Linked DNA regions of Homo sapiens: region 1 is linked to region 2. Evidence: fine-mapped expression QTL. Tissue or cell type: whole blood. Region 2 holds a variant in brackets; the other region holds the start of a gene. Each region is shown on its reference strand, or each on the opposite one.

What was found. PIP is the estimated chance that this variant, and not a neighbour inherited with it, causes the effect.
Region 1: it holds the start of HMGN4, and the variant in region 2 is fine-mapped to the expression of HMGN4 in whole blood (TOPMed, PIP above 0.99).

Annotation. Positions count from the first base shown.
Region 1 is chr6:26,536,125-26,540,496 of GRCh38, forward strand. HMGN4 (high mobility group nucleosomal binding domain 4) reads left to right here and starts at 2,242. Exons shown (of 2, transcript NM_006353.3): 1 at 2,242-2,377. It overlaps TRR-ACG1-2 (tRNA-Arg (anticodon ACG) 1-2), which reads left to right and starts at 1,374; the gene lies at 1,374-1,446. It overlaps TRV-CAC1-6 (tRNA-Val (anticodon CAC) 1-6), which reads left to right and starts at 1,930; the gene lies at 1,930-2,002. RefSeq lists enhancers at 1-438, 528-1,192, 2,453-2,862 and silencers at 1,226-1,519, 1,913-1,962.
Region 2 is chr16:57,023,134-57,027,459 of GRCh38, forward strand. It overlaps NLRC5 (NLR family CARD domain containing 5), which reads left to right. Exons shown (of 49, transcript NM_001384950.1): 5 at 652-720; 6 at 2,235-3,885. Among named protein-coding and RNA genes, the nearest start is that of NLRC5, 36 kb to the left of the region's middle. RefSeq lists an enhancer at 3,318-3,836. The variant C/T (reference allele first, on the strand shown) is at 1,929.

The sequences.
Region 1 (4,372 bases), not on the chromosome of region 2:
CTGGGCAATAAGAGCAAAATTCTGTCTCCAAAAAAAAAAAAAAAAAAGTTTTGGTAACCTATTTTAACATAATTAGTTTTCTTTTGAAATCTTACATATTTATCTTTTCTTTCGTGTATTTAAAAGTATTATTCTGAGATAGAGTCCAGAATCACCAAGCTGCCCTTGGGGTCCATAGTACAAAACCTAACGAGAAGATCCCTATGCTATTGCCTAGGGAGTAATCCATAACCTAGGTCTACCTTAATATTTATGCAGAAAGAGCAGAATATTTTTTGTAACGGCTGTTGAAACCTTATGAACTGAAAACAAATATTTTCTAATCTCAAAGTGTATATTCTCAATATCAGGCAGTTTTACTTCTGTTTAGTAGACCTCATCTTATTTAAAATGCTCACCAGGCATGGGGATGATTTATTCTCAGAAATATGGACAAACTAAAACACACACATATGAGACGTTTGTTTGCTTTCAAAGTGAAAAAGTGAACATTCATATGAGTGTCCGGGTTGATGATGCTCCTTATAAAGCTGTCAAATTCTGAGATCAAGGCCCTGCAGTAGAAGCAGCATGCAGTGAGGAGGCCTAGCACAGTTTCGCTTAGTAAAATATTTGAAGAAAAAAAAAAAAAGACCCACAGAGAGACAAATGAAAACTCAGACCACGTCACCGTACAACGGCTTCCAGTTTCCTACAGAATACCAGCCAGAGTCCTTACAAGAGCCTGTAAAGCTGGCCAGAGTCCTTACAAGGGCCTATAAAGCTGGAGGTGGTCTCCCAGGATCTCCTATTCCTCTCCACTGAGCACCGGCCTCCTCAACATAACTCCCAAGCCTGCTTCCACCTCCAGGCCTTTTCCCTAGCGATTTTTCCCTGTTCCAGATCACTCATTTCCCCGATATCAGCATTTATCCCTCATTCATCACTTTCACTGCTGGCCTTTCCTATCCTCTTTCCCTGTTTTATTATTATTTTTCTCCAATCGCTTATCACTATTATTTTGTTTATTTAATGCTTTATTATCCGCTTCCGCCACTGCCATGTAATCTTGAGGGCAAGGGTCTCTCATGTTTTCTTCACCGTTATCTGCAGTGCCTTGAACACTAATACTGGTTGAATGAACGAACGCATTAATGGAGCGGTGATATTGGGGCAGAGAGGATGCAGGGCTTGCTTTTCACCGCCATTTTTCAGCCGGCAGAGACAGACCGAGAAAGGAATGAAGGCCACGGGGCGTGTGCAGAAGTAGCTACCAGAGAGTCCATGCGCTGCGAGCCTGGACCAGCGGGCAAACGCGGCTTACAGGCGTTCACCCAGATATTACGGGTACAACCTAGTTTCTTATGAAATACCTCGCCCCTAAGGTACGCGCAGGGCCAGTGGCGCAATGGATAACGCGTCTGACTACGGATCAGAAGATTCCAGGTTCGACTCCTGGCTGGCTCGGTGTAAGCAGGGTCGTTTTACAACTTTCTGACTCCGCAGGAGTAAGGAAATTCCTGCAAGATAAATTTGCCTGGAAGACTCAGAAGCAAGAGGGGCAGCTCCCGACAACATATGGGGTTATCATTTCTTTGCGGAGCATTCTGCCACTGACCACGTGGTAACGCCAACTACGCCAGAGAAACGCTCGCCCTACCCAAGTTGTGCCCAGCCTTGCCTGGCCATTTTGGCCGAAGAACGAAGGACCGTTCAGAGATTAAATTAAAGTCTCTATTGTGTTCTTCCCTATTCAGTCATTTGTAGAATAAATTCTATGGCTTCAGTTTGAACACTGGAGGGGCTGGGTCTGAGCTTTTCATTGGTTTTTCTGGTTTGAGAGGTCGGTACAGAGACGCACGCGCACATCAGCAAAACACGCACTTGGAACGAAGAAACACGGAACTAGGCAGGAAGAACTATTTACTCTGAAAAATAAGCCCTTAGTGGGTTTCCGTAGTGTAGTGGTTATCACGTTCGCCTCACACGCGAAAGGTCCCCGGTTCGAAACCGGGCGGAAACACGTTTTTTTTTCCTCATCTTACTACGAAATTCTTCCAGTGTGTATCTTTTAAAGACTTTTTCAGGCTGTCATAAATTTCCTGTCTTCTTGTCTTGCTAGATCGGGGCAGCAGTGCTTAGGGCGGGCCTCAGAGGCTCACACACGTATCGCCAGGGGGAGAACCAGCTCTCTCCGGCTTGGACTCGGGGCGGCTCCCCGCCTGCAGCCCCGGAAGCGCATCCTCACCTTCCCTCGCCTTCCTGTTCCTGGCGGAGCCGGGCTCCGCTCGTCTTCTCTGTCTTAGGGCTGGTGCTGGCCCTGCCCACGCCTAGGGCTCCGGCGCGTCACGGGCCTCAGCTGGGATTCCCGCGCCCCTCGGACGGCCACGAGACTCGGGTAAGTGCCTCACAGACTTTGTGCGCTACCCCGGAAAATGAGGGGCGTGGTGGGGGGGGTCCCGCCGCCCTCCGTATACTTAGGACCCTCCTGCCAGCTGGCCCCGGTCATGATTAGGGGCCTTGGGCCCCGTCAGCCCCGCCTGTCTTCCCGTCTCCAGAGTAATCGCAGCATCTCTCCTGAGCTCCGAGTGTGAATCCCTGGGAAAAGCTGAATCCAGAGGTGGGGTCACAGAGAGCCGCAGGCCCGACCGGGATGAGAAGTCCTAATCGGCGTTCTAGGGGCGTTCTAAAAGAAGGAAGGAAGGGGATTTGAAAGGATTGCTCCCGCAGGGCTGTGGCCTTAAAGAGGTGGTGACTGGCAGGTTGGACTGACCTGCCGTGGGCTCTCCCTTCCTCCCCAATTTACCTTCGAGAAACCCTCGTTGAGGAGACACCCAAGGGCTGAGTCCTCCTCCACTTTGACCTTTTGCTATTCCATCACAAAGAAAAAATGGATCCCAAAGTTAAGAAATGGACCAGCACTTGTTTAGAATCAGGACTGGTGCCTTGGTGTTTGGCCTCTTACCTCTGCCACATGGCTTGCTTACAAGTTAATCGGATTAATCAAACGCTTTTATGAGAAAGTTTTGTTGTGTCACCTGGCAGCCTCGGGTGTTCCCTAAGAGGGATTTCTTTCTTAGATGTATTACTACTTTTTCTAGGGATTAGCCAAGCCTAGCCTCTCAGATCATATTGCTCCAGGTTCCCTCAAATGACTAATAAGAATGTGATGTGTTTGTTTTTGTTTGTTTGTTTTTGAGACGGAGTCTCACTCTGTTGTCCAGGCTGGGGTGCAATGGTGCGATCTCGCTCACTGCAACCTCCACCTCGATTCTTGTGCCTCAGGCTCCCGAGCAGCTGGGACTACAGGTGTGTAACACTACACCCGGATAATTTTTGTATTTTTAGTTGGAGACGGAGTTTCACCATATTGGCCAGGCTGGTCTCAAACTCCTGACCTCAAGTGATCCGCCCGCCTCGGCCTCCCAAAGTGCTGAGATTACAGGCATGAGCCACCGCGCCCAACCGAATGTGATATTTTTATGACCATGAGAAAAGAAGGGCTGCATTCTTTGGTGGGTCCGCAAAATTAAAAAAAAAAAAAAAAAAAGAAAAGAAAAGAAAGAAAAGGACAATGTTAATGAGCTGTTTTCTTTTTATCATTTTCTTAAACAGGCTGCTTGGGTAGACGTTGACTTGAAAGGTCCATTCTTTTGTCATCTTGCTGGTTCCCTTAACAAGACAACACCTTGGCTAGCAAGATAATATCTTGGTTAGCAAGACAATAAACTTGGGCATGTGCTCAACAGCAACCTGTCTAATACATTTTCATTTAAAATCCCCTCTGTACTACTCAGAAATATAAGCAAGTTATTATGGTGCCCAGAAAGGGGGCAAAGGTTCCAGGGTCCTAGGAGATGACAAGGATTTATCCTCTTCATCTTTCTCCGATCCCAGTTAGCAGGAATACTTTAGCCTGGAAGGTGAGTGTGCCCCTAACCAACCTTTACAGATGGGTGACTGTTTGGGAGCTTATGGCTCACTCCTTCTCTTTAAAGCAGATGCATTCTGGCAAGCTGCAGCAGCAAACCTACCCTTTTAGACACCCTGCGTTTTCTCATCTTTCCTTTCTACCCCTGCATCTCCCAGTCTCTCTCACTTAACCTCCGTGGAAACTCATGCTGCGTCTCTAATACTTTGGAAGATGAAGAACAAACGCCCTGGAGAGTGACTGACACCATGTGACCTCTTGCTTCTGTAGCACACTGCATCTTGCCTGTGAATCTTTTTTTTTTTTTCTTTTTTTTTTGAGACCGGGTCTTGCTCTGTCACCCAGGCTGGAGTGCAGTGGCACAATCTTGGCTCACTGCAACCTCCGCCTCCCAGGCTCAAGTGATTCTCCTGCCTCAGCTTCCCAAGTAGTTGGGACTATAGGCATATGCCACCACACCCA
Region 2 (4,326 bases):
TTAGCTGTAGGAGGACCCTGCTTGACTTCTTAAAATTCTTTCCTGAGTCCTCTTTCCTTTCTCCCTCCCTTCCTTTCTGGGTCCCCTTCCTTCTTGTTTTCCTTCTTCCTTTCTCAAACTCTTCCAGAAAGGCATTAAAGTGATTGTTGAAAATCCATACAATGAGACAAGACTCCAGAAACTATTAAGGGAAGTGAGGAAATGTGGGTGATAAGAAATCGGGATGATAAAACCCTAACAGAGGAGGGAGGTTGCAGGCCTGGCCAAACTCACTGGGAACTTCACTTATATGACCACCGGCGGCTTCCATAGAGCTTGGTCCTTCCCTGATGGACAGATGGCCATTTAGTGCTTGGAGCTGAGTGTTTCTGGGGGCTGCTGGCTGTTGGCCCTGCTTCCTGCATCCTGGACTGCAAGACTGCCAGGCCCAGAACATCCACCTTCCAATGGGGGTGCCTAGAAGTCCACTCTGCAAATAGAAGCTGGTGTTGACCCAGCCTCTGCCTGCTGCCTGCCTTTCCAGTCCCTGCATGTGGGTGTACTTGGCTGCCTGCCACCTGTCTGTGGACTGGAGTTCCCCAAAGGTTCTGGGTAACCCCTCAGCCCAGATCCCCAGACCCCACTCCTCCACCCCTTCCTTTGCTTTTTCAGGCCTGAAGCGCCCACATCAGAGCTGTGGGTCCTCACCCCGCCGGAAGCAGTGCAAGAAGCAGCAGCTAGGTGGGTACCAGTGTGGGGAGGAACATAAACAGAGAGATGGGGTTGCCTGGGGGCCAAGACCCGGACCCTGGACCTTGTCCCCTGCCAATAAGCCTCCAGAGGCCCAGTGACTCTTGTCTCGCAAGTTTCCAGGAGAAAAGGACTGGAGGTCTTGCACAGGCAGAGGAGAGGCCTGGGCTGGCAGCGAAGGGGCTCCCCACCCATCTGGCTGCATGGGGACTTCTCTGAAGAGGGCTCCGCTGAAGGAGCTGGAAGCACCATACAGGTCTCAGCTTCGCTGTCCAGGCTTTTCCAGGGACACCCTATGTCCTCAGTGTTGAAGGAGACCCAGGGAGGAGACCAGTTTGGGGGTGAGCAGGGATGGGGAGGGGTGAGGAGGCCTGGGAGAAACCTTCAAGACAGAGGCCCTGGGGGCCCATGGGGAGACATGGAGCTGCTTAGGGCAGGCCAGGCCAGTGAGAGAAGAAAGGGGACTTCTCTCATTCTTGACCAGTTCTCAGAATGGTCCTCGTTCTCCACGAGTTGTCCCACTAACTAGAGCCTTCTCTGCCCCCACTGCTGCCAACCATGGCTATAACCAGAGGATTCACATCCGCTCAAAATAGTTCACTACCTTGGCCTTTCCCCATAGGGTTCCCCCAAAAGCAGCCCCAGCCCTTTCCCTGGGTCACCTGAGACCTCTCAATGACCCAGGAATTAAAAGGTTAACATCTGGCACTGTAGGGGCCCAGCTCCCACAGTTCCGATCGGTAATGCCTAGGCCTACAGGTTGTTAGTGCTCACCCCTGGGCATTGCAGAACTGAAATATTGGGAAGAGGCACTGGGGATCCAGATATTACAGAAAGAGGTTGTTTCAATAAGATATTGCAAAGTAGCTGGGCGCGGTGGCTCACACCTGTAATCCCAGCACTTTGGAGGGCTGAGGCAGGTGGATCAGTTGAGCCCAGGAATTCAATACTAGCCTGGCCAACGTGACAAAACCTTGTCTCTACTAAAAATACAAAAATTAGCTGGGTGTGGTGGTGTGCACCTGTAGTCCCAGCTACTCAGGAGGCTGAGGCAGGAGGATCACTTGAGACCAGGAGTTTGCGGCTACAGTAAGCTAGGATCGTGCCACTGCACTGGAGCCTGGGCAAGACTGAGACTCTGTCTCTGGGAAAAAAGAAAAAAAAGAGATGTTGCAAAGGAGGTGCCCTATTCCCCTCCC[C/T]CCATCTTACTGAACCCTTACACCACGTGTACTATTGCAGAATGGATAGAACCGTGACCCACACTTCCCCATTCCCACCTGCCTGTTTAAATAGCTACCGGAGAGCCTATGCTCCCTTAGAACTGATTCCTTCTGGAAGTTGGGGTGGCACAGATCCCCCTATGGTGCTCTTGACACCCCCACCCTCACCCCATCATACATACACATCTGGGGCTACAGGCTCCCAACAGCCCAATACTGGGGCAAGAAGACATGAGCAGAGGGCCGGGGGGTCCTCTCCTCATGCCATGTCCCTGCCCCTTGCAGAGTTGGCCAAGAAGTACCTGCAGCTCCTGCGGACCTCTGCCCAGCAGCGCTACAGGAGCCAAATCCCTGGGTCAGGGCAGCCCCACGCCTTCCACCAGGTCTATGTCCCTCCAATCCTGCGCCGGGCCACAGCATCCTTAGACACTCCGGAGGGGGCCATTATGGGGGACGTCAAGGTGGAAGATGGTGCTGACGTGAGCATCTCGGACCTCTTCAACACCAGGGTTAACAAGGGCCCGAGGGTGACCGTGCTTTTGGGGAAGGCTGGCATGGGCAAGACCACGCTGGCCCACCGGCTCTGCCAGAAGTGGGCAGAGGGCCATCTGAACTGTTTCCAGGCCCTGTTCCTTTTTGAATTCCGCCAGCTCAACTTGATCACGAGGTTCCTGACACCGTCCGAGCTCCTTTTTGATCTGTACCTGAGCCCTGAATCGGACCACGACACTGTCTTCCAGTACCTGGAGAAGAACGCTGACCAAGTCCTGCTGATCTTTGATGGGCTAGATGAGGCCCTCCAGCCTATGGGTCCTGATGGCCCAGGCCCAGTCCTCACCCTTTTCTCCCATCTCTGCAATGGGACCCTCCTGCCTGGCTGCCGGGTGATGGCTACCTCCCGTCCAGGGAAGCTGCCTGCCTGCCTGCCTGCAGAGGCAGCCATGGTCCACATGTTGGGCTTTGATGGGCCACGGGTGGAAGAATATGTGAATCACTTCTTCAGCGCCCAGCCATCGCGGGAGGGGGCCCTGGTGGAGTTACAGACAAATGGACGTCTCCGAAGCCTGTGTGCGGTGCCCGCACTGTGCCAAGTCGCCTGTCTCTGCCTCCACCATCTGCTTCCTGACCACGCCCCAGGCCAGTCTGTGGCCCTCCTGCCCAACATGACTCAGCTCTATATGCAGATGGTGCTCGCCCTCAGCCCCCCTGGGCACTTGCCCACCTCGTCCCTACTGGACCTGGGGGAGGTGGCCCTGAGGGGCCTGGAGACAGGGAAGGTTATCTTCTATGCAAAAGATATTGCTCCACCCTTGATAGCTTTTGGGGCCACTCACAGCCTGCTGACTTCCTTCTGCGTCTGCACAGGCCCTGGGCACCAGCAGACAGGCTATGCTTTCACCCACCTCAGCCTGCAGGAGTTTCTTGCTGCCCTGCACCTGATGGCCAGCCCCAAGGTGAACAAAGACACACTTACCCAGTATGTTACCCTCCATTCCCGCTGGGTACAGCGGACCAAAGCTAGACTGGGCCTCTCAGACCACCTCCCCACCTTCCTGGCGGGCCTGGCATCCTGCACCTGCCGCCCCTTCCTTAGCCACCTGGCGCAGGGCAATGAGGACTGTGTGGGTGCCAAGCAGGCTGCTGTAGTGCAGGTGTTGAAGAAGTTGGCCACCCGCAAGCTCACAGGGCCAAAGGTTGTAGAGCTGTGTCACTGTGTGGATGAGACACAGGAGCCTGAGCTGGCCAGTCTCACCGCACAAAGCCTCCCCTATCAACTGCCCTTCCACAATTTCCCACTGACCTGCACCGACCTGGCCACCCTGACCAACATCCTAGAGCACAGGGAGGCCCCCATCCACCTGGATTTTGATGGCTGTCCCCTGGAGCCCCACTGCCCTGAGGCTCTGGTAGGCTGTGGGCAGATAGAGAATCTCAGGTGAGTAAGAGTGGAGGAGGACCGGGGAGGGGATTGGGCTTTTGGGGGAGCAGAGGCCAACCAGTCTAGCAAACCTCTGCCAAGAGGACTGGATAAGAATCTTGAATATCAGAACATAATGGCCTGCAATGCAAGAGAGGAAGCTCCATACCTTGACAGGACCTCTGGAGTCCAAATGGATCCTCCTCTTGTCTGTGGTTTCTGGACTCTCAGTCTCTCTGTCAATCATGGGCTGAAACCACAGATCCAGGCTGTCTATAGAGGCTGGTGGACTTTGGGCAAGTATATGGAGCACACACATGCACACTGTCTAGGCCAGAGTTTCTTCGTTCCTAAAACGAATCTGTAACAATAGCCAACTCATATGGTCATTGCAAGAATGAGATGGGATGGTGCATGAAAAACATTTTGTAGCACAGTGCCTAGCACAGAGCAAAGGCT